Linked DNA regions of Homo sapiens. The protein of the gene in region 1 interacts with the protein of each later gene in a biochemical or structural test. Each region holds a gene or a part of one and is shown in the gene's direction. Other genes may lie near its edges. The genes, in order: RAD18, SHPRH, RAD51 and PARP10.

Evidence for each region.
Region 2: the proteins of RAD18 (region 1) and SHPRH form a complex in vitro, tested with the Homo sapiens proteins (one study listed by BioGRID).
Region 3: the proteins of RAD18 (region 1) and RAD51 form a complex in vitro, tested with the Homo sapiens proteins (one study listed by BioGRID).
Region 4: of the proteins of RAD18 (region 1) and PARP10, one has a biochemical effect on the other in vitro, tested with the Homo sapiens proteins (one study listed by BioGRID).

What each region holds. Positions count from the first base shown.
Region 1 is NC_000003.12:8,897,450-8,904,474, reverse strand, and holds part of RAD18 (E3 ubiquitin-protein ligase RAD18), read left to right. Parts: intron 1-1,954; coding exon 1,955-2,095; intron 2,096-5,427; coding exon 5,428-5,581; intron 5,582-7,025. UniProt on the Homo sapiens protein: E3 ubiquitin-protein ligase involved in postreplication repair of UV-damaged DNA. Postreplication repair functions in gap-filling of a daughter strand on replication of damaged DNA.
Region 2 is NC_000006.12:145,954,339-145,961,363, reverse strand, and holds part of SHPRH (E3 ubiquitin-protein ligase SHPRH), read left to right. Parts: intron 1-6,009; 5' UTR 6,010-6,041; coding exon 6,042-6,674; intron 6,675-7,025. UniProt on the Homo sapiens protein: E3 ubiquitin-protein ligase involved in DNA repair.
Region 3 is NC_000015.10:40,712,162-40,719,186, forward strand, and holds part of RAD51 (DNA repair protein RAD51 homolog 1), read left to right. Parts: intron 1-6,643; coding exon 6,644-6,738; intron 6,739-7,025.
Region 4 is NC_000008.11:143,983,450-143,990,972, reverse strand, and holds the start of PARP10 (protein mono-ADP-ribosyltransferase PARP10), read left to right. Parts: upstream 1-4,512; 5' UTR 4,513-4,613; coding exon 4,614-4,615; exon of another isoform or gene 4,616-4,701; coding exon of another isoform or gene 4,702-4,739; coding exon 4,740-4,918; intron 4,919-4,997; coding exon 4,998-5,252; intron 5,253-5,324; coding exon 5,325-5,561; intron 5,562-5,644; coding exon 5,645-6,429; intron 6,430-6,541; coding exon 6,542-6,763; intron 6,764-6,868; coding exon 6,869-6,965; intron 6,966-7,161; coding exon 7,162-7,523. UniProt on the Homo sapiens protein: ADP-ribosyltransferase that mediates mono-ADP-ribosylation of glutamate and aspartate residues on target proteins. In contrast to PARP1 and PARP2, it is not able to mediate poly-ADP-ribosylation.

The sequences.
Region 1 (7,025 bases):
ATTAGTTTCACTAGAAGTTTTCATACATGTACCATACACATAAAAATATTGTAATTAGGAGCATTCTTTCCTGAATGTCTTTGCTGTGCCTGTCAATATTCATGTATAGGAATCCAACTATTTTCTTCCTTGTGCGTCACAATTTAGTGTTTTCTCTTTTTGCGTTAAAAGATAATTTTCAAAAACAACTAACATCATTCTCATATGGATGTAAAATGAACATGTGTTTTTATTAAAGATTTAAACTCATTAGTAGAGAGAAGACTGATATTATGAGGTGATCAAAGAAGGAGCCAAAGAATCATCACATTTACAGATGAGGAACATTGAAATGAATGTATAATGAGCAAAAAACTGGCTTCTTCCACATTGGAGGAGGAAAGTCAATTGAACCTCCACCCAACAGGATTTTGCATATCTATAGACAAGAATTATTTTCCATTGCTCTCAGTTATCTACAACATACAGAGTTATACCATAGCTCAAAGGCAGTGAATGGCTGGAATCTTGGGAGAGTAGATTTAGACAATGCCATAGTTCAACTGAAGCACAATTTTTTCCCTACACCCAGTAAATTCCCTATGCCTTAGTATTATGCTAAGGAAAATGGAAGAAACCAAGTGATAACAAGTACATTGTTGATTTTTGTATGAAAACAGTGTCAAAATTTTGTTTTAACCATTTGTAGTATGGTTCTCCCTAAAAATTTTATAGGATTTATGACATTACTTTGGACTGTGGCCTAAGTATTTAACGTTGCTAGATAAGTAAACTGTGACCTCAGCTGCATGGTTCAGAATCACAAATACATGCCCTAAAGTCCATACAGTAATGATGACTGGCTGCTCTTTATTGAACAGATTGGTACATTAATAATGATGATCTTGAGGTCAGGGTTAATTATATTCAAAGGTGTTAAAATGGTAGTAAATAAAGATTAGAGTTAGTATAGTATCGTAAGATAAGGTAGAATTGGTTGGGAGAGATCTTAGAATCTTAAAGGGGCTCTACTGGGAAACCGGCCGGAAATGTGAAGAAAAAAAGGAGAGCTGGAGTAGACGGACATTCCTTTGTTATGATGATTCAACTTTCCTAGAAGCTTCTATTTTAGATTCAGCAAATACTCTTAGTTCTCTTGTATCTTGGAAGTTAGAATGGTATCATTTGTATATATTTAAGAAAGCGGGCATCTTTCATGCTCTTATGATTATGTAAAAGCCTTTCTAGAGAATGGAGTTTGGGAAGAAACCTAGAGTAGCTAACTAGGAATATCATGTTTCCATATTTGTATTTGAGGAAGGGAGAAGATAAAAAGAAGGTTCCATGACACTCCAGCCCTTTGTATTCTTATGCTTGGCAGCTTTTAAATTTATTGCAAGTGATTCCTAAGGATGCTGTTCTTGAGCAAGCTTGTACACCTCTGTTTTTTGTTTTTTGTTTTTTTTTTTTGAGACAGAGTCTTGCCCTGTTGCCCAGGCTGGAGTGCAGTGGTGCAATCTCGGGTCACTGAAACCTCTGCCTCCCAGGTTCAAGTGACTCTTGTGCCTCAGCCTCCTAAGTAGCTGGGATTATAGGCACACAATACCACACCTGGCTAATTTTTTTGTACTTTTAGTAGAGATAGGGTTTCACCATGTTGGCCAGGCTGGTCTCGAACTCCTGACAAATGGTCCACCTACTTCGGCCTCCCAAAGTGCTGGGATTACAGGCATGTGATACCACACCTGGCTAATTTTTTTTGTATTTTTAGTAGAGATGGGGTTTCACCATGCTGGCCACGCTGGTTTCGAACTCCTGACAAGTGATCCATTCACTTCAGGCTCCTGAAGTGCTGGGATTACAGGCGTAAGCCACCATGCCCATCCCTTGTACACCTCTTGATATTCAGTTTGTCAGTTGTAGATGGTTAACTTTCATAGTCCTAGCTTTACTGAGAAGATCTTTTGAATTTCAGGTAAAAAACATAAGAGTGAATTTCAGCTTCTGGTGGATCAGGCTAGAAAAGGATACAAGAAAATTGCTGGAATGTCACAAAAAACAGTAACAATAACAAAAGAAGATGAATCTACAGAAAAGCTATCTTCTGTATGCATGGGTAAGAGACTATAATTAAAAACAGACATATGTCGAATTTCATTATTTACTTTTAATATGAAAAAATTAAACCAAAGAAATTTACTTTGGAGTTCTTAGTTCTTTGAAATGAGAAAAAGTATTTTTAGACAAACTTCATGTAGCAGTTTGTAAACTAGATTTATTACTATGGGGAAAGTGGTTGGAAGAATGTCCTGAAGAAACAATCTCTTTTTGTCTATCGTCCTTTCAGTTAATGATAAATCATAAATTTCTTTGTTATTTAAGCTTCAGGATGTTTTCTAGATATAGAATTTATTGGTGGAGATCCTGTAAAGAGAGTGAATTATTTTTGTGATAGAACACTGGTGTTTACTTTGGATGAAATGTTCTGCCAAACAGTCTAAAGTTAACATACCTGGTAGGCTAATACAGAGCACGTTCCTTAACTTTGATCCATTTTAAAATTTGAAATTGATATTTTAATTCTATTGCCTGGGCTTTGGACCAGTGAACAAAAAAGAATCATAATGGGGGAAAGTGCGCAAGAAAATTGCTTATTATGTTTTTCTATATTGTGGTAAAATATACATAACACAATGTTTATCTTTTTAACCCTTCATAAATGTACAAGTCATTGGCATTAAGTACATTCACAATATTGTGTAACTATCACCACTGTCTATATCCAAAACATTTTCATCATTCCCAGCACAAACTTTGCACTCATGAAATAGCAACTCTTCCGTCCCCTCTGCCTCATAGCCCTGGTAATAACAATTCCACTTTCTGTGTCTATGAGTTTGCCCATTCCAGGTACCTCATATAAATGGAATTGTATAATATTTGTCTTTGTGTGTTGGCTTCTTTCTCTAAGCATAATGTTTTCAGAGTCCTTCAATGTTGTAGCACATTTTAAAATTTTAAAATATTTTAAAATTTTTGATTAAACAGTATTCCATAGTATGTATATGTCATATTTTGTTTATCCATTTATCTGCTATGGTTATTTCCACCTTTTGGTTCTTATAAATAATGCTGCTATGAGCATTGGTGGTCAGATATTTAAGTTTCAGCTTAGAGTGCGATTTCTGATTCATATGCTGGTTCTATGTTTAGAACCTTTTGAGGAATCGTTAAACTTTTCCATAGTGGCTGCATTATCTTACATTCCCACCAGCGAAGCATGAGGGTTCCAATTTCTTCACATCCTCATCAATGCTTGTTATTTTCTGATTTTTAAATTTTTTAAAAATTGTAGATGTGAAGTGGTATGTCATTGTGGTTTTGATTTGCATTTCCCTAGTGACTAATAAACAATTTGTGCATAAAGTGCTGCCTCAGTATGTAACTCATGGTCATTGAACAACTCGAACTTGTTCATGCAGTTGTTAAAGGATATTTCTAGAAACTAGTTTAGCACTTGAGAAAATCTGACTGAATATTTCCCATTAAGAAAAGTTTTTTTAATTAGTTGAACCTCTCTTGAATATCATTGATGGCTTGTATGTATTTATGAACATCAATATTACTCTTTCCGGGGTTCAGAGGTGATTGCTGCTTTTAGATTGCTGTGCATGAATGAGATGTCTGAGAGGGTAAGGTATGTGAGAGAGATGAAGACAGACACAGACTGACTGAAAAGATGGATTTTGTATAGCATCATACAACCAATATAATTGTTGCTCTTTAGAACATTGAAGTGCTCATGTAAGTGAACAAGTTGCATATTCTCTCAAGTGAAAACTTAGCCTGTTTTTGTTGTGTGTCTCTGGGGAGCTCTGATGTCTGAGCCTCACTCTTCGGGGCTCTATTTTGGAGTCCTGCATTCTGAGATCTAAGGGCAAGTAGGAAGGATAACTTATTTTTTATGCCCACAGATTATTGAATGCTGTTTGTTCCCAAGAGGGAATATATCTTCTAGAAGTGTATGTAAGAGTGGAAGAAGTAAGAAAAGAATACAGACAATGTGCAAAAATAAAAGATTGTTTTAAGTTGAATTCCTGTTCCCTGGTTTGCTAGCTTGCTTGCATGCACCTCACTAGTTGAGTAATATAGTCCCTGGGTGAACCGAGTTGACTGGGGGATTGGCTCCTCTTAATGTGATTCTGGTATCTGTTTACAAGAGGAGTTCCTAGAGGTTCAGGATGGTCATCCTGGCTAAATTCTTTTTCCCTTTTCCAGATATACATTAGAGGGTGCTGTTTTGTTTTGCTAATGATAGTTTATTGACAGCCAGATGACATTAGGAGCATATTTTTAGGAATTACACTCTTGTGAAGTATGCTGTTCTCTCAGTGTAACAAAAACTTAGAACTATTTCTGAAAAAAATTTAACTGTATGAACTTGGCAAGGTTTTTTGAAGAATTTGTTATGTTCTTTCCCCATAAATTCTCTCTGTATAATCAAACCTTGACAATTGTATTTTTAGTGTGCTTTGTTGAAGACCACTTGCCTCTACAAGTGCTTGATGAGTGATGTGTGAAAGCTCTGTTTCTCTGTGAGGAAACACATGAAAGGAGCTCTGTAGTATTATTAGCACATGTAGCTTGCATGTGAGGTACCTCCTCAGTTCCTGAAAGTTAAGGACAGCACAGATGAAAATCCCAGCAGCGTTCATGATGAGTGGGAGAATCCTGGGCACTAAAGAATCTTTCACAGATATTCTTCCACTCATATTTGTAGAAAATTGGCCATACCCATATGCCACATTTTTGTAAACACTGCATCCTTCCAGCTTTTTGGGGTCTTTATTTTTATCTGCAATAAGAGACCTTGAAATCTGAGAATATGACAAAGAATGCACGGAAATGTGATGTGTATTGGATCAAATGGAAATATTCCTTATGTCTGTTTAGTTGTCCTTTTCCATAGAGAATAATTAGATTCTAGTTAACCTAGAAAAATGTTTAGAAAAATGTCCAGATAGATTCACTATCATATAATAGTAGCAAATATTGTGGTTGTCTTATTAGTTGAATCTGTAGTCTTTTTTTGGTTATACTTCTTATGTTGGTTTGTCAGTGTTCTCTGATCTATGAAATATGCAAGAATTCCTTAGTGATATGTTAATAGAGGCCTCATTAGAATTACAAGATTCTTCCTGCTTCTGGTTTTAAAATAAATTTTATTTTTAAACTAATTAATCTTGGAAAAACATGGGCTGGACAGTATAATTAGATAGCACCATTGTAGTGTTAATTCTTGCTCTCTGGCTGTCACTAGAGTTCTGGAATCTATGTGACATATACTTCAACTTTACTAAGTGCACATGGCAGTATTAAGTGTTGCAGAAGTAATAGGCATACAGAAGTTGTAGATTTTAAGGTACTCTTAAATTTATTTTTTCCTAGGACAGGAAGATAATATGACCTCAGTAACAAACCACTTTTCTCAATCAAAGCTGGACTCCCCAGAGGAATTGGAACCTGACAGAGAAGAGGATTCTTCTAGCTGTATTGATATTCAAGAAGTTCTTTCTTCATCAGAATCAGATTCATGCAATAGGTAAGAAACATGCAGTAGTTGATTATTTTAAATATCTACTTCATATGCACATGTAGATAGATAGGCAGAAATAATTAGAATGTAGCTTTGAGGCATGGCATGGTGTGTCACTCTTACATTTCAGTCCCCTTTTACTGCTGGGTCTTCTTCACAGTGATAACAAGGCAGGATTTGGGAAGGTAGTGCAGGGATCACAGGGTGAGTTTGGTCTCTACTCTATAGCCTTTATGTAGATACTTTTCCTACCGTTGGAAAAGAAAGCATGATAGACAGTGAAATTTTTGTCAAGACGATGAGTAAAGGAGATAAAAACAACTATATTGGAAAACAGAAATGATCAGAAAGACATGGCGCATAGGAGGGTTAAGAAATGAAAAATTTAACTGAGTAAATAGAATAGATGGGGAAACTTTAAAAATGAGAAGTTTGGTAATGAGTCATTTTGAAAAGATATTTTAAAAAATATATAGGGTTTATTTTACACACACACACACACACACACACACACACACGCATGCACACACACATACCAGTTTTTGTTCCGGTCTTTCACTTAATGTTATGTCATAAATGTTACGTTTCTATAGGTTGGCACAAAAGTAATTGAAACCACAGTTACTTTTGCACCAACATAATAGCTTATGTTTATAATTGTTATTTTTTAATGAGTACAGTATTCTGTTATGTCTCTGCGCTATAATTTACCAGACCCTTCAGTTTCTGTTAGAGCTCTACATTTTTCCCAGTGTTCTACTTATGTACCTGATGCTATGGTAAAGCTCTTCCTTTGTTTCTATTGAATACTTTTTTTTTCATTTTTTTGAGACGGAGTCTCACTCTGTTGCCCAGCCTGGAGTGCGGTGGTGCGATTTCGGCTCACTGCAACCTCCACCTCCCAGGTTCAAGCATTTCTCCTACCTCAGCTTCCCAAGTGGCTGGGATTACAGGCCTGTGCCACCACGCCTGGCTAATTTTTTTTTTTGTACATTTAGTAGAGACAGGGTTTCACCGTGTTGGCCAGGCTGGTCTCAAACTCCTGACCTCAAGTGATCCACCCACCTCGGCCTCCCAAAGTGCTGGAATTACAGGCATGAGCCACCGTACCTGGCCACTTATCTTTATTATTCTGATATGTAGGCATTGCCCTCTGAATGAATTGTACTGATTTAAAATGCCTACCTATCAGAATCATTGCTTATTGCCAGTGTTATTTAATGACGCTGAAACTTAGTCAAGAGAGACACCCATTTGATTCTGGTAACTGATACCATAGAAATCAGGAAAAGATTCAAACTTAGAAGGGACTACCAGTCAAGACCAAATTCCTTTAGTAGCATCATACTATGTGGTATTTATTTATCTGGTCCAACTGGGCGTTCTCAGGGTGGGGTTAATGAGTATATTACATAGATTTGGCCTTGCTGTGCTGAAGACATGCCAGTCT
Region 2 (7,025 bases), on another chromosome or scaffold:
TTGGCTGCACCCTGGAATTTTTTAGGGATTCTAAAAAATAAAGGGAGTAGTGCCTGGGCCCTTCTCCAAGACATTCTGACTTAGTTGGCTCGACATCAGGATTTTTTTAAGTTCCCCTGGTGATTCTAATGTGCAGTCAAGTTTGAGAAGCACTAATCTGTGGTCCCCCATCCTGCGACATTACAGTTTGGTTATTGTGAAATGTGGTTTAGAGCAGGGGTCCCCACCCCTCAGGCCATGGACCGGTGCCAGTCCGTGGCCTGTTAGAACCGGGCTGCATTGCAGGAGGTGAGTTGCGGGCAAGCGAGCATTACCACCTGAGCTGTGCCTCCTGTCAGATCAACAGTCAGTAGATTACCATAAGAGCATGAATGCTATCGTGAACTGCATATGCGCAGGATCTAGGTTGTGCACTTCTTATTAAAACCTAATGCCTGATGATCTAAGGTGGAATAGTTTCATCCCTAAACAACCCCCTCTCCACTCCACCCCTCTCCTCCGGTCCATGGAAAACTTGTCTTCCATGAAACCCATTTATGGTACCAAAAAGGTTGGGAACTGCTGGTTTAGAGTGTTCTCAGGATGATGATAAGTAGCAACTACCATTTATGGAATACAGGCCAAATTTCTAGTACTGCTGTTGTACTTAAATTATTTCTAACCACAATCCTGCTATCATCCCCATTTTAGAGATGAGAAAATTGGCACAGAAGACTGGATAACTATTCCAATGCCACACAGTCAGTAAATGCCAAAGCTGGAATTAGAATGAATATAAGACTTCAAAGCATTGCATTCTCACCTTTAAGCCACATCGCTTTGCTAATGTGAGACTCTGCTAGACAGTTGCTTTTTGGGTTTTCAGAGTTAATGATTCCACAATAACCATGTTATTAATATTATTATGGTTAGTGTGATACATTGTGTAACTGGCCCAATTCCCTTCCAACACTCCCTCTACCCTTCCACCCCCCATATCCATGCTCTTTGCCATGTGCAGTTTCACCTAGTAAAGAGGTGTAGTATATTTCTTCACCACTTGACATTGGGTCCATGGATATGTCTTGCTTTGGTCTGTGGCACCTTAGTGGTTTTTAAGCACTTTGAAAACTACTTGTGTGATTGGATTTGCAGTAATACACCTCAACCATTGCCATAAAGAACATTCCTGAGTTACTTTGCTGATCCAAGGAGAGGGGATAGGAACTACATTAAGCAGAGCCAAACTGCTTTTCCAGAAACCTAGCCTAGATTAGCCTCCTTCAGCTAATGTGCAGATCTATGAGAATAAATGATTGCTATATCAAGGTATTGAGCTTTGAGGTAGTGTGTTACACAGCATGTTTGTGGCAGTAGTTAACTGATAAGCTACTATAGCATAACTTTTTAAAGTTCCTGCAGAGTGACCCACTTTCAGTATTCCAGCTTATGCTTTGAGGAAAACTGGACAAACATAAACACTTAGGAAATTAAGAGCTTTCTATATTATTCCACTAAGATAAGAGAGGATAAGATGCTTTAAAAGTAGTTGACCATAGCCAAGGATTGATTTTAATCCATCACCTGCACATTCATAAGTGAAGCACGGGCTAAGGGAATAGAATTCTCATGATTGACTTAAACAAGCACTGTCTGATACATAGACTTTTTGCAATTATGTGAATGCTCTATATTTGTGCTGTCCAGTACAGTAGCCACTAGTCACATAGCGCTACTGAGCACATGGGGCTAGTGAGACTGAAGAGCTGAGTTTATAACATTTAATTTTATTTATAGTCATGCATCACTTAATGATGGGGCTGTGTTTTGAGGAATGCATCATAGGCAAGTTTGTTGTGTGAACATCTTAAGAGTATACTTACACAAACCTAGGTGGTACCGCCAGCCTACTACACACCTAGGCTCTATGGTACAGCCTGCTGCTCCTAGGCTACAAACCTGTACAGTATATTCGGTACTGGATACTGTAGGCAGTTGTCACACCGTAGTATTTGTATATTTAAACATATTTAAATATAGAAAATGTACAATAAAGATATGGTATAAAAGATAAAAAATAGTACACCTTTGTGGGGTACTTAGCATGAATGCAGCTTATAACACTGAAGGTTGCTCTGGGTTAGTCAGGGAGTGAATGTGAAGGCCTGGGACATTACTGTACACTTCTGTAGACTTTGTAAACACTGTACACTTATGCTACACAAAGTTTATTAAAAAATAAAGTAATGCGGCTAGGCGCGGTGGCTCACGCCTGTAGTCCCAGCACTTTGGGAGGCTGAGGCATGCAGATCTTGAGTTCAGGAGTTCAAAACCATCCTGGCTAACACATGAAACCCCGTCTCTACTAAAAATACAAAAAAAAAGTTAGCTGGGCATAGTGGCAGGCGCCTGTAGTCCCAGCTACTCAGGAGGCTGAGGCAGGAGAATGGCATGAACCCAGGAGGTGGAGCTTGCAGTGAGCAGAGATCACGCCACTGCACTCCAGCTGGGCAACAGAGTGAGTCTCTATCTCAATAAATAAATAAATAAATAAATGCATTATGATGTTACAATGGCTATGATGTCACTAGTCCATAGGAATTTTTCAGCTCCCTTATGGAACCACTGTAATATTTGGTCCCTCATTGACCAAAATGTCATTATACAATGCATAACTGTATTGAAAGTTAAGTAGTCACATGCAGCCAATAACTACCTTATTGGATTTGCTTTGGCCAATAGTAGCTAGAAACTACTTCCTTGGAGGTGCCAAGGAAATCACTTCCTTTGAATCATAGGGCCACCTTGTTCCTAAATAAAGGTTCAGTCATCAGGGAAGGAGGATAGACCTTAGGCAGGTAAATAATGTCACTTTAGTTTCTTTTATGGTTATTGGTCTATTCATATTTTCCTTCTTGGGCCAGTTTTGTTCATTTGTATTTTGTTAGCAAAATTTTATCACTTTATAATTTATCATTTTATCTAGATTTTTCAGATTTATTGAATAAAGTTATACTTAATATTAAAATTTCTAAATCTCGTGCATCTTTTTGTTTTTGCTCTTTAAATCAACTTTATGATATAATTTATGTATAAGAAAATTCAATTTAAAGTATATAATTTGATGAGTTTTGACAGATGTATACTCTGCAATCATGTGTTGAACATTTATGTCACCCCAAAGCCTGCCTTCCTGCTCCTTTACTGTCAGTCACCTCTTTATACTTCCTTGCCCCTGGTAACCACTCATCTACTTTCTGCAATCAGGTTTTTGCCATTTCTAGAATTTCATGTAAATGGAATCATATAGTATATAGTCTTTCACATCTAGCTTTCTTCAGTTTAGCATAATGCTTTAACAGTTCATTCAGGTTATTTTACAGAAGTCTCTTTTTATCACAGAATAGTATTCCATTGTGTGACTATGCCACAATTTGTCCATTCACCAGTTGATGGACATTTGGGTTTTCTTCCAGTTTGGGGCTTTTAATAGTAAAGCTGTTAACATTCAAGTTTAAATTTTTGTGGATTTATGTTTTGATTTCTCTTGGATAAATACCTAAGAGAGGGATTACTAGGCTGCATAGTAAGTTATATTCAATTTTATTAGAAACTGATACTTTTCCAAAGTGACTGTGCTGTGTTCAAATGTTGGAGAGTTCAGTTCTGTTTGAGCCATACTCTCAGTGTTTTAAATTTTTGACTATTTTAGTATATGAATAGTGGCATCTCATTGTGATTTGTGGGTTGAATTTGTATTGCTTTAATGACTGATGCTGGTGAAAATATTTTCATATGCTTATTTTACACTTATAGGTCATCTTTGGTGAAATGTCTATTCAAAATTTTTGACTTTTTTAAATGTTTGTCTTACTATTAATTTGTGAGAGTTCTTTATATATTCTGCAAACATATCCTTCATCAGATACTTGATTTGCTAATATTTTCTCCCATCTGTGACTTGCTGTCATATTTTGATGACAGTATCTTTTGAAGAACCAAAATATTTAATTTTGATGAAACTTAGTTTATCATATTCTTACATAGTCTATGGTTTTTGTTTCCTGCTTAAAAATTTTTGTGCCTTTTTTTTGGGCTAATCCAATGTCATTTAGGTTTTCTCCTCTGTTTTCTTTGAGAAGTTTTAGTTTTAGCTTTTATAGTTTATTATCTATTTTTAGTTAATTCTTACATTTTAGGAGGTAAAGCTTCATTTCATTGCATATTGGTATCCATTTACTAAAAGGATACCTTTCCCATTGACTGCCTCTGAACTTCTTTCAAAAATCAATTGACCATCCATGTGTGGGTCCACTACAGGACATTTCCCTTGATCTATATGTTGGTCTTTACACCACTACTGCACCATTTTTATTTCTTTTGACATATGTCTTGGAATCAGTGTAAGTCATTCAACTTTATTTTTCTTTTCTAAAATTATATTGACTTTCCTGTATTGTAGGCATTTTAGTATAAATTTTAACATCAGGTTGTCAGTTTCTACAGAACAAACCTGTTGGAATTTTGAATGGGATTGCTTTTCTATAGGTCAGTACTAAGAAATTGACATCTGAACATTTTGAGTCTTCTAGTCCATGAACATAGTACACTGTATAGATCTCTGATTATACTGTTATACTATTTTCTAAATTTTTATGTATGCTTGAAAATTTTCAGAATGAAAGTATAGTAAGTTATCTTTTACAGAAATTTAAAAATCAAGAAAAAAGTTTACTATATTTATACACATATTTTTTGTTTTTGCTTTTTATTTCCTTGTGTGTGGATCCAGATTTCCATCTGATGTCATATTTCTTCTACCCAAGCGCTTCTTACATTACTTAGATTGTAGGTATACAGGTGATAAGTCCTTTTGGCTTTTGTTGATCTTTTTTTCACCTTCATTTTTGAAAGATATTTTGCTGGGTTTAGAGCTGTGGGGTGGGAGCAGTGTCTAAACCAGAGAAATAGGGCCAATCTGGAGAGAAGTCCTCACTTTTCAGTAATTTAATTATGGCATACCTTATTGTGATTGTTCTTTATGTTTGCCCTGATTGGGTTTCATTGAGCTTCTTGGTTTTCTGAGTTGATGGTTTTTATAGAAGTTGGAAAATTTTCATGCATGATTTTTTCAAAAAGTTTTTTGTATCCTTTCCATTCTTTGCTGCTGAGATTCCAGTTTTATGCATGTTTGACTCCTTAACATTGTCTAGTAGGTTTCTGATGTTCTATTTATTGTTTTTTCAGTCTTTGTTTATCTCTACTTCATTTTTGACAGTTTCTGTTGTTACTGTTGTTTCCATTGTTTAAGCTTATTCTGCTTCTTTTTTTCTTTGCCATTTCTAATCTGCTGGTAATCTCATACAATGTGTTTTTCGTTTTAGATGTTGCATTTCCATCTGCATAAATTCTATAGGAGTCACTTGTATATCTATCATTTTTCTTTGTCATATTCATGTTTTCCTCTACCTTTAACATATTGAGAATATTTACAGTAGCTGTTTGAATGTTTGTTTCTGCTAATTATATCATCTGTGTCTTTTCTGGGGCTTTTTGATTTTTTTCTTGTAATGGGTCTTATTTTTCTGTTTTATTTTCATTTTTTTTGCGTGCCTGATAATTTTAGATTTGATGCCAGACATTTGTGTTGGATTTTGTTTCGCTCTTTTAAGTATTGTTGGGCTTTGTTCTGAGGGGCAGTTAAATTACTTGGGATTGAGAGATTTACCTTCCTATTATATTGCTTATTAAATGTATTTCTACAATTTATTTTATTTTATACAACAAATTGCCTTTACTATTAAAGACTAGCAAAACCATTAGAATTTATTTGATAAATGAGATTATGGTTAATATGTTCATTCCTTAGTCATAATGACCTGGTAAAAAAATTACTCATTGCCTTATATCTCACAGAAGATTTCATATTATGTTTATGGGCTATGAATTTATGCTGAATTTCTCATCTGGTAACCCTTAAATACTAAATCATCTCTTGTTATACCTCCTGTTGTTTCATTTGTCCTCTAGAGTTCACAGTTACCAGCCAAGAAAACTTGAAAATGAGCAGCCGACGGAAACGTGCTCCTCCAGTGAGGGTAGATGAGGAAAAGAGGCAGCAGCTTCATTGGAATATGCATGAGGACAGAAGGAATGAACCTATCATCATAAGTGATGATGACGAGCAGCCCTGCCCAGGTTCAGATACCTCTTCTGCTCATTATATCATTCTAAGTGATAGTCTAAAGGAAGAAGTGGCTCACAGAGATAAGAAGAGGTGTTCAAAAGTGGTGAGCTTCTCAAAACCAATTGAAAAAGAAGAGACTGTTGGTATTTTTTCCCCTTTGTCTGTAAAGTTAAATATTGTGATTTCTCCCTATCATTTTGATAATTCCTGGAAAGCATTTCTAGGAGAATTAACTCTTCAGCTTCTTCCTGCACAGAGTTTAATTGAAAATTTTTCCGAAAGGAGTATTACATTGATGAGTTCAGAGTCAAGCAATCAGTTCCTGATTTATGTTCATTCAAAAGGTGAAGATGTAGAGAAACAAAAAAAAGAACCGATGAGTATTTGTGACAAGGGTATTCTGGTGGAGTCATCCTTCAGTGGTGAAATGTTAGAAGATTTGGGGTGGCTACAAAAGAAGAGAAGAATAAAACTCTATCAGAAACCAGAAGGAAATCACATTATCAAGGTACTCAGTTTTTTGTGGTGTCTTTTTTGAGGCTCTTCTACATTGGCAGTCCAATTTTAAATTAACTTGTGAGAGAAGTCTGAAAAGCCAGCAATAAGCCTTTCATTGTTAAGTTTCAAAGTACACTTTAAGCTTTTAATAACTATTCAAAGTATGTTACAACTAATCATTTTCAGGCTACACTTTTTCAAGATCTTCCATCTCTACTTTCAGTGACTTGTTTTGGTCCTCATCATCAGTTCCTCTTACTGCAGCAGTCATTTAACCATTTATCTGTTTGCTATTTTGCCTTTTCAAATGCTTCGATTTTGTCTCTGGAATTGTATGATTGAATGCAAATGAAATTCTACC
Region 3 (7,025 bases), on another chromosome or scaffold:
AGGAAACTAAGATAGTGACAATAAAGAGAAGTAGGGAAAAGATGTTGTAAAGGGCAGCGCTTGATGACTGACAATAAAAAATACACCTCAGCCCAACAATGTATTACAGTAACTTAGTAAACCTAAAAAGTGTTTGAGAGGGGAAGACAGTTTTGTTGGAAACATGAGTACAGGTTTAGAGATGACAGGTTTGAGGTGACAAACCCCGAGTGAAAATTTCTAGCTGTATTGAGAGATGTGGAACTAAGTCACACAGAGAAGTAAAAATGGAATCTGGAAACGAAAGATCCATGAGAAAGGAAGGGAGTAGGATATAGAAGAGAAAGCTAACAAACTTTCATCTTTTCTGCAACTTCAGGCAGTGTAATGGGGAGCCGTTTTTCCTTGTCTAAGTGAGTCTTAATGTTCTCTGGCTTTAAGGATGTGCTGCATAAGTGGCCAGTCCACAAAGTATCCTTGAACCTGGCCCATGCCCATGGACCAACTCTTCTGTTATAATCTTTTGAAGCTTTATTATAATTTTAGTTATTTTGAAAAACATGGCATTATTTTAATCTAGATAGATTATACCCACTTCTGCCATGGGCACAACTTACTGTTGGAGATCAAAACAACTGAAACAAAATCTGCCTTATATCAGTGTTACAGAAGAGGCTTCCTAGTGTTTTTCTATCCTCGGGACTCAACTCTGTTGAGTTTTTTTTTCTTTTCTTTTCTTTTTTTTTTTTTTTTTTTGAGAAAGAGTCTTGCTCTGTTGCCCAGGCTGTAGTGCAGTGGTGTGATCTTGGCTTGCTGCAACCTCTGCCTCCCAGGTTCAAGCCATTCTCCTGCCTCAGCCTCCCGAATAGCTGGGATTACAGGCATGACGGCCACCACGTCCAGCTAATTTTTGTATTTTTAGTAGAGACGAGGTTTCACCATGTTGGCCAGGCTGGTCTCAAACTCCTGACCTCAAGTTAATCTGCCCGCCTTGGCCTCCCAAAGTGCTGGGATTACAGGAGTGAGCCACCGTGCCTGGCCCAAGTTTATTTAAATTTAACATCAAGTAACCTAGCTTGATAGCCTCCCATTTTTCTTATTTTCCTTTTTTTTTTTTTTTTTATTTGAGACGGAGTCTCTGTCGCCTAGGCAGGAGTGCAGTGGCGCAATCTTGGCTCACTGCAACCTCCATCTCCTGGGTTCAAGCAGTTCTCCAGCCTCAGCCTCCCAAACTGGGATTACAGGTGCCTGCCACCCAACACAGCTAATTTTTTGTATTTTTAGTAGAGACAAGGTCTTGCTGTGTTGGCCAGGCTGGTCTTGAACTCCTGACCTCAGGTGATCCACCCGCCTCAGCCTCCCAAAGTGCTGGGATTACAGGTGTGAGCCACCATGCCCGGCTTTTTGTTGTCATTTTAATTGTTTATTGCTCCACTGATATTTTCTTTGCAGACCAAAATGTTACAATTTTTTTTTTTTTTTTTGAGGCGGAGTCTCATTCTGTCGCCTGGGCTGGAGTGCAGTGGTGCCATCTCTGCTCACTGCAAGCTCCGCCTCCTGGGTTCACGCCATTTTCCTGCCTCAGCCTCCCGAGTAGCTGGGACTACAGGCGCCCGCCACCACGCCTGGCTAATTTTTTGTATTTTTAGTAGAGACAGGTTTTCACCGTATTAGCCAGGATGGTCTCGATCTCCTGACCTTGTGATCCGCCCACCTTGGTCTCTCAAAATGCTGGGATTACAGGTGTGAGCCACCGTGCCTGGCTGGCTGCCATATGTCTTATGAGACAGCCAAGCTAGCATGTCAGTATCGAGTAGACCTAATCCATTGTTAACTCTCCTCAGAAATAAATTCTTTTTTTTTTTTTTTTTTGAGATTGGGTCTCACTATGTTGCACCGGCTGTTCTTGAACTCCTGAGCGCAAGCAATCCTCCAACCTCAGCCTCCCACATAGCTGGGATTACAGGTGAATGCCTCTGCACCCAGATCCTCATAATCATTAGGAAGAAAGAGCTGAGGGGGAGGGGTGGAGGAGGATGCTTAGGAGACCTTTTATGATAATAAGGGAGGAAACATTGAGAAGAGGAAGAGTAAGTTATAGAAGCTATAGCTATTGCGTGAGCTCCATTAGAAATTTGATAGCTAAAGGGAATTAGGGCTGTTTAAAATGTCACTCTTACATCCGTCATTTGACATGATATGTGACCTTTTTAAATAGAAATGTTTTCCCATGTTTTGACAGGGACTTATGTAGAATAAGTATTTAGACTACAGTACATAATATCTATAGTTGCCATGGCAACTCAGCATAGCATGCTGACACTCCAAAGTTGTACAAATAGAATCCTAATCTGAGAATGTTTAAGTAGTCAGATAATGTCTGTCAACAATAAACTAAAGCAAAATTCTCAAGTAAATATAGCCTGTTAAAATAACATTTACAGATGGCTGAACAACTATATAGATCGTTGACTTTTTTTAAAGAAAAAGAATGCTAATTAATTAATAATAGAAAAGATTACATTTCATCAGCCTAAGAGCTGGAACCAGGGATATAGAGAGGATGTTAGACTATTACTTAAATCTAAATATTATCTACTCTCATTTGTTTTCTCAATTTAATGAAGTAAAACCCCATTATATGTTAGGTCTCTCTCTAATAGAAAAGTCATAAAGTTGAGAGCTACAGTTAGGTTACAAAATGAATTAGCCCATGCTTGTTCAAAGTACTGCAGTAGTTTTAAAATTCTGGGCCGGGTATGGTGGCTCATGCTTGTAATTCCAGCACTTTGGGAGGCTGAGGCCGGAGGATTGCTTGAACCCAGGAGTTCCAGACAAGACTGGGGAATATGGCGAGATCCCATTTCAATTAAAAAATAAAAACAGTTCTGAGAAGACAATTTAACATAAGTACCAGTTTTAAAAGCACATGCCCATGCGGGCATGGTGGCTCACGCCTGTAATCCCAGCACTTTGGGAGGCTGAGGTGGATGGATCACAAGGTCAGGAGTTCAAGAACAGCCTGGCCAAGATGGTGCAACCCTGTCTCTACTAAAAATACAAAAATTAGCCAGGCGTGGGGGTGGGCGCCTGTAATCCCAGCTACTTGGGAGGCTGAGGCAGAGAATTGCTTGAACCTGGGAAGTGGAGGTTGCAGTGAGCTGAGATCGTGCCACTGCACTCCAGCCTGGGCAACAGAGTAAGATTCTGTCTCAAAAAAAAACCAAAAACCAAAAAACCACAAAACAAAAAAATCACATACCCTTTGACAGAAAATTTGTCTTACAGAACATTTCACATATATGCAAAGATAAATGTACAAATAATTTATACCAAAGCATAATTAAAATGGTAAAAGTTAGAAACATACTGCATCACTATAAAATGAGAAGTGTTAAATTATGCTCCTAAGCAGTTATTAAGAAGAGCTAACCTGATGGTATCCCAATCCAGTAACAGAAGATGGCTATGATGGCACTGGGAGGGCAAGGTAGAAAGGGCCAAATAAGCTGGAGAACAGAGCATGCAATCCATCCCCATGATCTTACCCTGGGAGCTTGTCCACTATCCTGTTGTCAGTCTACCTACCTATTCCCAATCATCTGTGGCCTTTCCTTTGCCAAGGAAGTCTATTCAATTGGAAAAGAATCCCCTGTCATGTTAGCACTTAATATTACCTGGAGGTAGGAGAAAGGAGAACTTCGTTCATCTTATTTCCTGGGGACTTAGTCCCCAGAGTGTTAATATTTCCTCCTCTCCAAGAAACTGAGGCAGATTCTGCTCTCTGTCCTCTTGGCCACTGGTTCCAAGTCTTTCTTTAGGCATGACCCTCTTTTGTTGTATATGTGTCCTTTGCTCCTTCCATGGATTCCCATGATGTGAGAGATTTTATCTGCCAAATAGTAACGTAATTTTTCCCTTCCAAATTAACAAAGCCTTCCGTAACTGTATACACTAAAGTCAGTGCCCTAAAGGTTGGGAAAATCATGTCTTCAGAGTGTACCGTGCTAAACGCTTTACATGAATTATTTTATTTAGTTTTTAAAACAATCCCATAAGGTCGGTTTTATTTACATTTTACAGAAAAGGAAACAATATTCTCAGTCACATAGTAAGTGGAAGAACCACTTATATAAAAGAAGTATATGAAAATGCATAGAAAATAATCTGGGAAATTATTTCTGGGAGATGGAGAGTGGTGAAGAGCTTTCAGTTTTTTCTCCGCCACTTCCTCTTTTTTTTTTTAGACAAAGTCTCACTCTGTCACCCAAACTGGAGTGCAGTGGCATGATATCGCTCACTGCACCCTCCGCCTCCCAGGTTCAAGTGATTCTTGTGCCCCAGCCTCCCGAGTAGCTGGGATTACAGGTGTGCACCACCACGCCCCACTAATTTTTGTATTTTTAGTAGAGACAGGGTTTCACCATTTTGGCCAGGCTGGTCTCGAACTCCTGACCTCAGGTGATCCACTCGCTGGGATTACAGGTGTGAGCCCCCATGCCTGGCCTCTCTACTTCTTTTTTTTTTTTTTTTTTTTTGAGATGGAATCTCGCTCTGTCACCCAGGCTGGAGTGTAGTGGCACGATCTCGGCTCACTGCAAGCTCTGCCTCCCAGGTTCACGCCATTCTCCTGCCTCAGCCTCCCAAGTAGTTGGGACTACAGGTGGCCGCCACCACGCCCGGCTAATTTTTTGTATTTTTAGTAGAGACAAGGTTTTACCATGTTAGCCAGGATGGTCTCGGTCTCCTGACCTCAGGTGATCCACCTGCTTCGGCCTCCCAAAGTGCTGGGATTACAGGCGTTAGCCACTGCGCCTGGCCTCCGGCCCTCTACTTTTATATTGTTTAGATTTTTAATATAAGCATATAGTTGTTTTGTAATTTCAAAAAAAAATTCTCAAAGATAAGAAAGAAAATTTGGGCTGGGTGCAGTGGCTCACGCCTCCCAGCACTTTGGGAGGCCAAGGTGGGTGAATCACCTTAGGTCAGGAGTTAAAGACCAGCCTGACCAACGTGGAGAAACCCCATTTTTACTAAAAAATGCAAAATTAGCCGGGCGTGGTGGTGCATGCCTGAAATCCCAGCTACTTGGGAGGCTGAGGGAGGAGAATCCCTTGAACCCGGGAGGCAGAGGTTGTGGTGAGGCAAGATCATGCCATTGCACTCCAGCCTGGGCAACAAGAGCGAAACTCCGTCTCAGAAAAAAAAGAAAGAAAAAATTTGGTTCTCCTAGGCCTTTAACATAAAATGTTCTAAAGGATTTTCCTCATAATTTAAATGGGAATTATGACTCCAAAGTAGATTTCTAGAGTAGAAATTACCCTTTAGCATCATTCACTTAAACTTTGTAGAAAAATTCAAAGGTATCTGGTATGGAATGGGTAGTCTAAAGCAGAGATTTCCTTGAGTGGCTCATAAGACAGTTTTCATGGCATTTCATTTACTTCTCTTTTCTTTCCTTTTTGTTTTCTCTTTAAAATTCTTTCTACTTATTTTTCTGTTTTCTCCAATTGTTCATTTTAAACATCTTGTTTATACTATTGGAGTAAATATGTTTTTTTCTTCTTTCTTGCTCACACTCGAAATTTGCTATAGACACTCCGAGGGCATTGACTAGTCCCTTTAGTACCCCTAAAGAATGAACTGCTCAATAAAGTGAAGTATAAGTTTGATATAGACATGCTAAAATTAACTGGGCTTTGGATCATGGCCCATTATTGATTAAAGCTAAGGTAAATGGTCTTCCAAGTTTCTGTACTTTTGAATTGATCAGTCTTGTGTTGGTATGCAGTTCTAGAATTTTATTACTGGCCAGGTGTGGTGGCTCACGCCTGTAATCCCAGCACTTTAAGAGGCCGAGGCGGGCAGATCACTTGAGTCCAGGAGTTCAAGACCAGCCTGGGCAATGTGGCAAAACCCTATCTATAAAAAAATTTAATCGGGTGTGGTGGTGCACACCTATGGTCTCAGCTATTTGGGAGGTGAGATGGGAGGATCTCCAGAGCCCGGAAGGCAGAGGTTGCAGTGAGCCAAGATTGCACCACTGCACTCCAGCCTGGGCGGCGGAGTGAGACCCTGTCTCCAAAACAAAAAAAGGCCAGGTGCAGTGGCTCGTGCCTATAATCCCAACACTTTGGGAGGCCAAGGCAGGCAGATCACCTGAGGTCAGGAGTTCAAGACCAGCCTAGCCAACTTGGTGAAACCCTGTTTCTACTAAAAATACAAAAATTAGCTGGGCGTGGTGGCATGGACCTTTAATCTCAACAACTCAGGAGGCTGAGGCAGGAGAGTTGCTTGAACCCAGGAGGTGGAGGTTGCAGTGAACCGAGATAACGCCACTGCACTCCAGCCTGGGCAACAGTGAGACTATCGCAAGAAAAAAAAAAAAAAGAAGAAAAGAATTTTATTACCTACTTTGGGCTATATTTCTAAGCAGTCCAGTTCTGACAGGACTAGCTGTATGTACTGAGACACAATCAGCTTTACATATTTTTCTAGCTGTATTTCTATTAATATCAGAAGGGAATGCCTCCTTCCTACCACTGTCATTTTTAAATGTTTTTTTCCCTTTGCCTTGGAGGAATTATAAAGATGTCATGAGGAGCTTGGTCAGCTGTATCAGAAATACAATGTTCATTTCTACTGTTGTTTTTGTTCTCTATAGCTTCCCATTGACCGGGGTGGAGGTGAAGGAAAGGCCATGTACATTGACACTGAGGGTACCTTTAGGCCAGAACGGCTGCTGGCAGTGGCTGAGAGGTAGGTTACTGGTTTAGATAAGAGAGACTATGGCTACACTTATCAATGTAGTGATTGCCAGGGTTAGTTTGGCCGAAGAATGTCTCTTCTATAACCCCACGTCCCAAAGTTGTATGTGTGGTTCAAAAGAATGACTTCCTTAGTAGAAAAAGGCATTCTTTTTTTTTTTTTTCTTCAGATGGAGTCTCGCTCTTGTCACCCAGGCTAGAGTGCGGTGGCGTGATCTCAGGTCACTGCAACCTCTGCCTCCCGGGTTCAAGCAACTCTCCCACCTCAGCCTTCCTAGT
Region 4 (7,523 bases), on another chromosome or scaffold:
GGGGGAGGGGCCGGGCGAGGGGACGACCGCCAGCCTCGGGATTTGGGGCTTGGGTCGTTTCTCACAAGCAACCGGAGGCCTGCGCCGCTGCCGGCGTCTCCCGGGTGGGAGCTCAGCGCGGAGGCTGGGGTCTCGGCCGGGGACGTGTGGGGTGTGCCCGGACCCTCCCCTCCGCATCCCGCCCCTTAAGCAGCTTTAAGGGGCCGGAGCCGGCGGCTATTTCTATCCCAGGAAATCCCCGGGCCATCTGTGACCAACAAAGGCCCGAGCCCCCCCACCCCCGCGAGCCCAACAACAGGGCCCAACGGCCCCTGGCTCCGGGGTGGGGGGATCGGGCCTGGATCGGCTGCCGGTGCCTGCCAGTGGGGTACGCCGGGAACAGCGGGGTGCGGGGGTGTGTGGGGGATGGAAGCGACCACGGGGCGTGCGGGGAACAAAGCGGGCGTGGGGCGAGGCGGGTAGGGGCTGCGGCCGTGGCACTGGCACCGAGAGCGGATGGGCCCTCCGCGGGCCGGGGGCGCACAGGGTCACGGGTCCAGCAGTCGCCGCAGCGCGCCGCCCCCTCCCTCCGGCTCCAGGCCGCCGCGGCTCCCCGCCCCCACCACCGCCGCCACCTCTGGCCGCGAGCTGCCGCGCGCCCCGGCCGGACCAACTTACTGACCCGAGGCGGCCACGCTCGGATGCGCAAGATCCGCGTGGGGGCGGGGGCGGGGGCGGCAGGCCGCGCGGCGCAGCGGGTCAGAGGCGCTCCTGGGCTCGGGCCGGGGACTCACCGGTGGCCGGGCGCCGCAGGCCGGTACGCACGGTGTCCGCTGCGCGGCCGCGCGGTGATGGCCGATGCGCCCGCACCCGCACCCGCTCGGCGGCCGCTCAGCTGGGCCTGCGCCTGCGGCTCGGAAGACGCAGCGGGGCCTTGTGACGGGGCGGGGCAGGGGGCGGGGCCGGGCGAGCTTCGGGGTGGGAGGGGCAGGTGGGCGGGGCTTCCGCGGACCCCTCCCGCTGCGCCGCCTTGCGTGTTCCTCTTCGCTCCGGCCAGAGGCCCGCCTCTCACTGTCTGCCGAGGGGTGGGGTCGGGCGGTGGGCGCTGAAGACCCCTGGAGGCAGAAGTCTGGTCTGGCCAATTTGACTGGCCGTTCGGTAGTTAAGAAATTTATTCCTAAATGCGGGATTTGCTGAAGCTGCCCGGGACTGACCGTCCGTTCTCGGCCTTAAAACCCGACGTTCACTTCTTTTCATCCAGATCTCTCCCAAATCAAGAAGCCTAATCCTTTAGTTCCCAAATCGAGGCCTCGTGGTTTAATTGCCCCATTTGCTCTGTCAGCCCAAACTCTGCCAGGCCTGCTACTAGAGACCCTTTTTTATTTTTTTAATTCTTGTGGATACATAGTAGGTGTATATTTACGGGCTACATGGGATGTTTTGATACAGGCATGCCATGGATAATAATCACATCAAGGTAAATGGGGTATCCATCAGCTCAGGCATTTTGTCCTTCGTGTTACAAACAATCCAGTTATACTCTTGGAGTTGTTTTAAAATGTACAATTATTCTTGACCACAGTCACCCTTTGTACTAACAAATACGATGTCTTGTTTTCACACTAGAGACCCTGAACGCTCGCTTGTCTGCCTAACGTCCTCACAAGCTGCGAGGGGCTGAGGCTTGGGGATGCAGCAGGACTGGAGGCCAGGCCACCTCCCTGCTTAGCTCCCAAGTCCTCTTGGGGGAGCAGTGACTGACACAGGCAGGGTACATCCTGCTGCCAGCCTTCCCACCCGGGGCCCAGACCCCACCTGCCCTCCCGCCCTTGGAGGGCCGGCCTCTCCCAGGCCGCTCTGAGTCCTGCACCTATGGTGCGCTGGCGCAGTGTTTAGCAGCCGGACCTAGTGAGGGGAAGCCTGGGGTGCGTGTTTTGCACATGCGCGTGGTGTGAATACTCCACCGGGGCTGGTTTCAAGTTACCCCCAGCTGGACAACCAGTCCACAGAAATTCCCGAAACTGTACCAGTCTGCTTGTGGTGTGAGTGGTGCCTGTGGCAGGCCCTCTGCAGCCAGGGTCGGCGTAATGGATAACCTGTGATGAGTTCCATTAGAGAAAACGTGGAAAAAGCAGGGATGGATTTACCCTTGTAGAAGGTAACTTCTACCTTTGTAGAAGCAGAAGCTCACAAAATTTGAGAGACCTTTAAGAAAAATAAAATGCTTGCTGGGCGCGGTGGCTTACGCCTGTAATCCCAGCACTTTGGGAGGCCGAGGCGGGTGGATCACAAGGTCAGGAGATGGAGACCATCCTGGCTAACACGGTGAAACCCCGTCTCTACTAAAAATACAAAAAAAAATTAGCTGGGCGTGGTGGTGTGCACCTGTAATCCCAGCTATTGGGGGGGCTGAGGCAGGAGAATGGCTTGAACCTGGGAGGCAGAGGTTACAGTGAGCTGAGATCGTGCCACCGCACTCCAGCCTGCGTAACAGAGTGTGACTCTGTCTCAAAAAATAAATAAATAAGTAAATAAAAATAAAATAGCTGGGTATGGTGGCTGGCACCAGTAATCCCAGCACTTTGGGAGGCTGAGGCAGGTGGATCATCTGAGGTCAGGAGTTTGAGACCAGTCTGCCCAATAGGGTGAAACCCTGTCTCTGCTAAAAATACAAAAATTAGCTGGGCATGGTGGTGCGTGCCTGTAATCCCAGCTACTTGGGAGGCTTAGGCAGGAGAATCCCTTGAACCCAGTGGGTGGACGTTGCAGTGAGCCGAGATCACGGCACTTCACTCCAGCCTGGGTGAAAGGGCGAAACTCCGTCTCAGAAAAAAAAAAAAAAAAGGCAGAGTAAGGGAGATCATGCCAGAGGGGTGGCCATGGGGGTTTGTGGGGAAGGTAGGGCCAAGCAGAGGGAAGGGCCAGTCCCAGGCTACTGAGGCAGGAGTGGCCTGTAGCTCTGCAGGAAGAGCTGAGAGCCTGGAGCCCTCTGAGCATCAGGGTGTGCAGGGGGCATGGGGCCAGAGAAGGGACTGAGGTCTGGTCAGGTGCAGCTGGGCAGGGGGCAGGTCCTCAAAAGGACTTTGGGTTTTTGTTTTTTTTTTAGACAGAGTCTCACTCTATCACCTTGGTTGGAGTGCAGTGGCACGATCTCAGCTCACTGCAACCTCCACCTCCCAGGTTCAAGCTATTCTCCTGACTCAGCCTCCTGAGTAGCTGAGATTATAGGCACCTGCCACCATGCCCGGCTAATTTTTATATTTTTAGTAGAGACAGGGTTTTACCATGTTGGCCAGGCTGATCTCAAACTCCTGACCTCGTGATCCACCTGCCTCAGTCTCCCAAAGTGCTGGGATTACAGGCATGAGCCACTGCGCCCGGCCCCCAGGACTTTGGTTTCTACTGTTGCTGATGCTGGGAGCTGTAGCAGCTGCTGGTGTCATTTTACAAGGCTCACCCTGACACCTCTGTTGAGGACCCACCATGGGAGTGGCAGACAGAGACTAGTTAAGAGGTTAGCCTAGCTACCTAGCGAGAGATGCTGGAGGCTGGGACCAGGGTCGGGGCAGCAGAGGTGTGGCATGTGCAGGGCTAGGAGTGCAGGCTGGCCAGGGTCCTCAGCTCCCTGGAGGGAGGAACAGCAGGGGTGGGGCTGGGTTTTGGTGGGCTGAGGGGTGAGTGGGAAGTAGGAGATGGAGAGTGGTAGTGGCCACAGCTCTTTGAAAGGCTGGAAGCAAACGGAGCTTGGGTGATGTGGGAGATCTGTGGCGAGTGGGAGTGTGGACTCTGAAGGCACCGCCCAGGTTTGAGGCCTGGTGCTGCTATGGGCCTGTCTGCACCTCCGTTTCCCTTTCTGTGGTGAGGATTAGCGGCAGCAAGGAATGCAGTGGAGCCATTACCTTGTCACCTTCTGAGGTTACTTGTGACGATGCCAATGATGGTGTGAGATGGGGAGGTGCAGGCAGGACAGAAAGCTGCAGGAATGGGCAGGCAAGACCTGAGGCGGGAGGAAGGCTGTGCTGCAATGCACATTCTTGGAGACCAAGGGTGGGGAACCGCCCATGCTCAGCACCTGGCAGGTGTGAGGGACCAGGAGCAGGGTTGAGAAGGTTGCTGGGGGCGTTGAAGGCCAGCCTTGGCCGGGGGCGGGCCTGGAGACCCAGCACTTTGTGTGCAGAGGGTGTCATGGACACAGAGGCTTGGAGATCCTGAGTGAGGGGCAGTGACTCAGGCCCCTTGGTGGGTTTAGTGGGGCGGGTGATTGGCCATTTTCAGGCCATGGAGGCCAGGGGAGTGGAGGGCCACCAGGGGACACTCCTGTCTACCCTGCCAACCAGGGGCTGGAGTGGGCCAGGTAGGGCCGGTGGGCTGGGCTGGGTTGGCTGGAGGGTCCTGAGGGGTCCAGCCTGGCCAATACCTCCTGGTCAGCTGGGGGTTGAGGCTGCAGCAGGAGAGGAAGCATCTGAGCCCCAGTACCCAGGCCTCAGCGCCCAGGGCCCAGCTGCTCCCTCCCTCCTTCCGTCTTTCAGTTTCACTTTTGTTTTCCTGCTCCCAGCAGGGTTAGGCTTGCTGAGGGGCAGGCACAGGAGTCCTGGCTGAGCTCATGGCCTGAGGCTGCCTAGCGGCCACGGGGAATGTAAGTGCTGTATGTGGGGCCACCCATAATGGGGGAGCATTGAGGACACACCTTGGAGGGGCCTGGGGAGGGGCAGGAGGGGTGGAATGGGCTGTTTCCCTACCCACCTGATGCCCCGTCCCAGGGTTGCAATGGCGGAGGCAGAGGCAGGGGTGGCAGTGGAGGTCCGTGGACTGCCCCCTGCCGTGCCCGACGAGCTGCTCACTCTCTACTTTGAAAACCGCCGACGCTCTGGAGGGGGACCTGTGTTGAGCTGGCAGAGACTGGGCTGTGGGGGCGTCCTCACCTTCAGAGAGCCTGCAGGTGAGAGGGCTGGCTGAAGGGACAGCCTGGGTGCCCTGATATTCTAATGCCTGACATCCTGCCCCGCCCCTGCCCACAGACGCCGAGAGGGTCTTGGCCCAGGCAGATCACGAACTACATGGTGCCCAGCTGAGCCTGCGGCCAGCTCCACCACGAGCCCCTGCACGCCTGCTGCTCCAAGGACTGCCCCCTGGCACCACGCCCCAGCGCTTGGAGCAGCATGTCCAGGCCTTGCTGCGGGCCTCGGGGCTCCCAGTACAGCCTTGCTGTGCCTTGGCCAGCCCCCGGCCAGACCGGGCTCTGGTCCAGTTGCCCAAGCCCCTTTCTGAGGCAGGTGAGAGGCAGGGTTGGGGTTGAGGTGCTGGCTAGGGGGGATTCCCTGAGCTGACCTGCACATACCCCACAGATGTCCGTGTCCTGGAGGAGCAGGCCCAGAATCTGGGCCTGGAGGGGACCTTGGTGTCCCTGGCCCGGGTTCCCCAGGCCCGAGCGGTGCGTGTGGTGGGGGATGGTGCCTCTGTGGACCTGCTGTTGCTGGAGTTGTACCTGGAGAATGAGCGCCGCAGTGGTGGGGGGCCCCTGGAGGACCTGCAACGCCTACCCGGGCCCCTGGGCACTGTTGCCTCCTTCCAGCAGTGGCAAGGTGAGTGGGGCTGGGCAGACCCAGCCGACCGTCCCTCTCCTGCAGAAATCTGACAGGCTTTCTGTCCTTTCCCTTCCTCCAAGTGGCAGAACGAGTGTTGCAGCAGGAGCACCGGTTGCAGGGCTCAGAGCTGAGCCTTGTCCCCCACTACGACATCCTGGAGCCCGAGGAGCTGGCTGAGAACACCAGTGGAGGGGACCACCCGTCCACCCAGGGGCCTAGGGCTACCAAGCATGCTCTCCTGAGGACCGGAGGGTTGGTGACGGCTCTGCAGGGTGCAGGGACTGTGACAATGGGCTCTGGCGAGGAACCAGGGCAGTCAGGGGCCTCTCTGAGGACAGGTCCCATGGTGCAGGGTAGAGGGATTATGACAACAGGCTCTGGCCAGGAACCAGGGCAGTCAGGGACCTCTCTGAGGACAGGTCCCATGGGGTCTCTGGGACAGGCAGAGCAAGTCAGCTCGATGCCCATGGGGTCTCTGGAACATGAGGGGCTGGTAAGCCTGAGGCCTGTGGGGTTGCAGGAACAGGAGGGGCCCATGAGCCTGGGGCCTGTGGGGTCTGCAGGCCCAGTGGAGACCTCTAAGGGGTTGCTGGGGCAGGAGGGCCTGGTGGAAATTGCCATGGACTCACCAGAGCAAGAGGGGCTGGTGGGTCCCATGGAGATCACCATGGGGTCTCTGGAGAAGGCAGGGCCTGTGAGCCCAGGATGTGTGAAGCTGGCAGGGCAGGAGGGCCTGGTGGAGATGGTGCTATTGATGGAGCCAGGGGCGATGCGCTTCCTGCAGCTCTACCATGAGGACCTTCTTGCGGGCCTGGGAGACGTCGCTCTCTTGCCACTTGAAGGACCGGATATGACTGGCTTTCGGGTGAGTGACCCCTCAGGACTCCTCACCTTCAGCCCCCTCCTCCTACTGGGGACTCAAAGTACCTTTCCTGTGCTCTAAACCTGCAAACTCCATCTCTGCAATGGCCCTGCAGCTCTGTGGAGCCCAGGCTTCCTGCCAGGCGGCTGAGGAGTTTCTGCGGAGCCTGCTGGGCAGCATTAGCTGCCATGTGTTGTGCCTGGAGCACCCGGGCAGCGCCAGGTTTCTCCTGGGCCCAGAAGGGCAGCACCTTCTCCAGGGGCTGGAGGCTCAGTTCCAGTGTGTCTTTGGGACAGAGCGCCTGGCCACAGCCACGTTGGACACAGGCCTTGAAGAGGTAGAGATGGAGTCCCACCCCTGCCCTCCCCTTTCTCACGCCTCTGCCCCAGGCCTCCTCTGCCCTTGCCCAGAGGCTAGTGGTCCTGACATCCTCTCCCTACAGGTGGACCCTACCGAGGCCCTCCCAGTGCTCCCTGGCAACGCCCACACCCTGTGGACCCCAGACAGTACAGGTGGTGACCAGGAGGACGTGAGCCTGGGTAGGGCTCCCTGGGAGCCCTCAGCACATCCTGTGGCCCTCACTTGACCTCACCCCCTGCCCTGCTCTGTGCTCCCATCTGTCTACTGACCCATCTTAGGCCCACCCTGTACCCTAAAAACTTGCTCCCCATCTTTCATCCATTCCAACTCCTCCTGGGTCCAGCCCCTGACCCAATGGCCTCTCCCTGCCCCCAGAGGAGGTCCGAGAACTGCTGGCCACCCTGGAGGGCCTAGACCTAGACGGGGAGGACTGGCTGCCTCGGGAGCTGGAGGAGGAAGGGCCTCAGGAGCAGCCAGAGGAGGAGGTGACCCCAGGGCATGAGGAGGAGGAGCCTGTGGCCCCCAGCACTGTGGCACCCAGGTGGCTGGAGGAGGAGGCCGCTCTGCAGCTGGCCCTCCACCGGTCACTGGAGCCTCAAGGTCAGGTGGCTGAGCAGGAGGAGGCTGCTGCCCTGCGGCAAGCCCTAACCCTCTCCCTGCTGGAGCAGCCCCCGTTGGAGGCAGAAGAGCCCCCAGATGGGGGGACTGATGGCAAGGCCCAGCTGGTGGTGCACTCG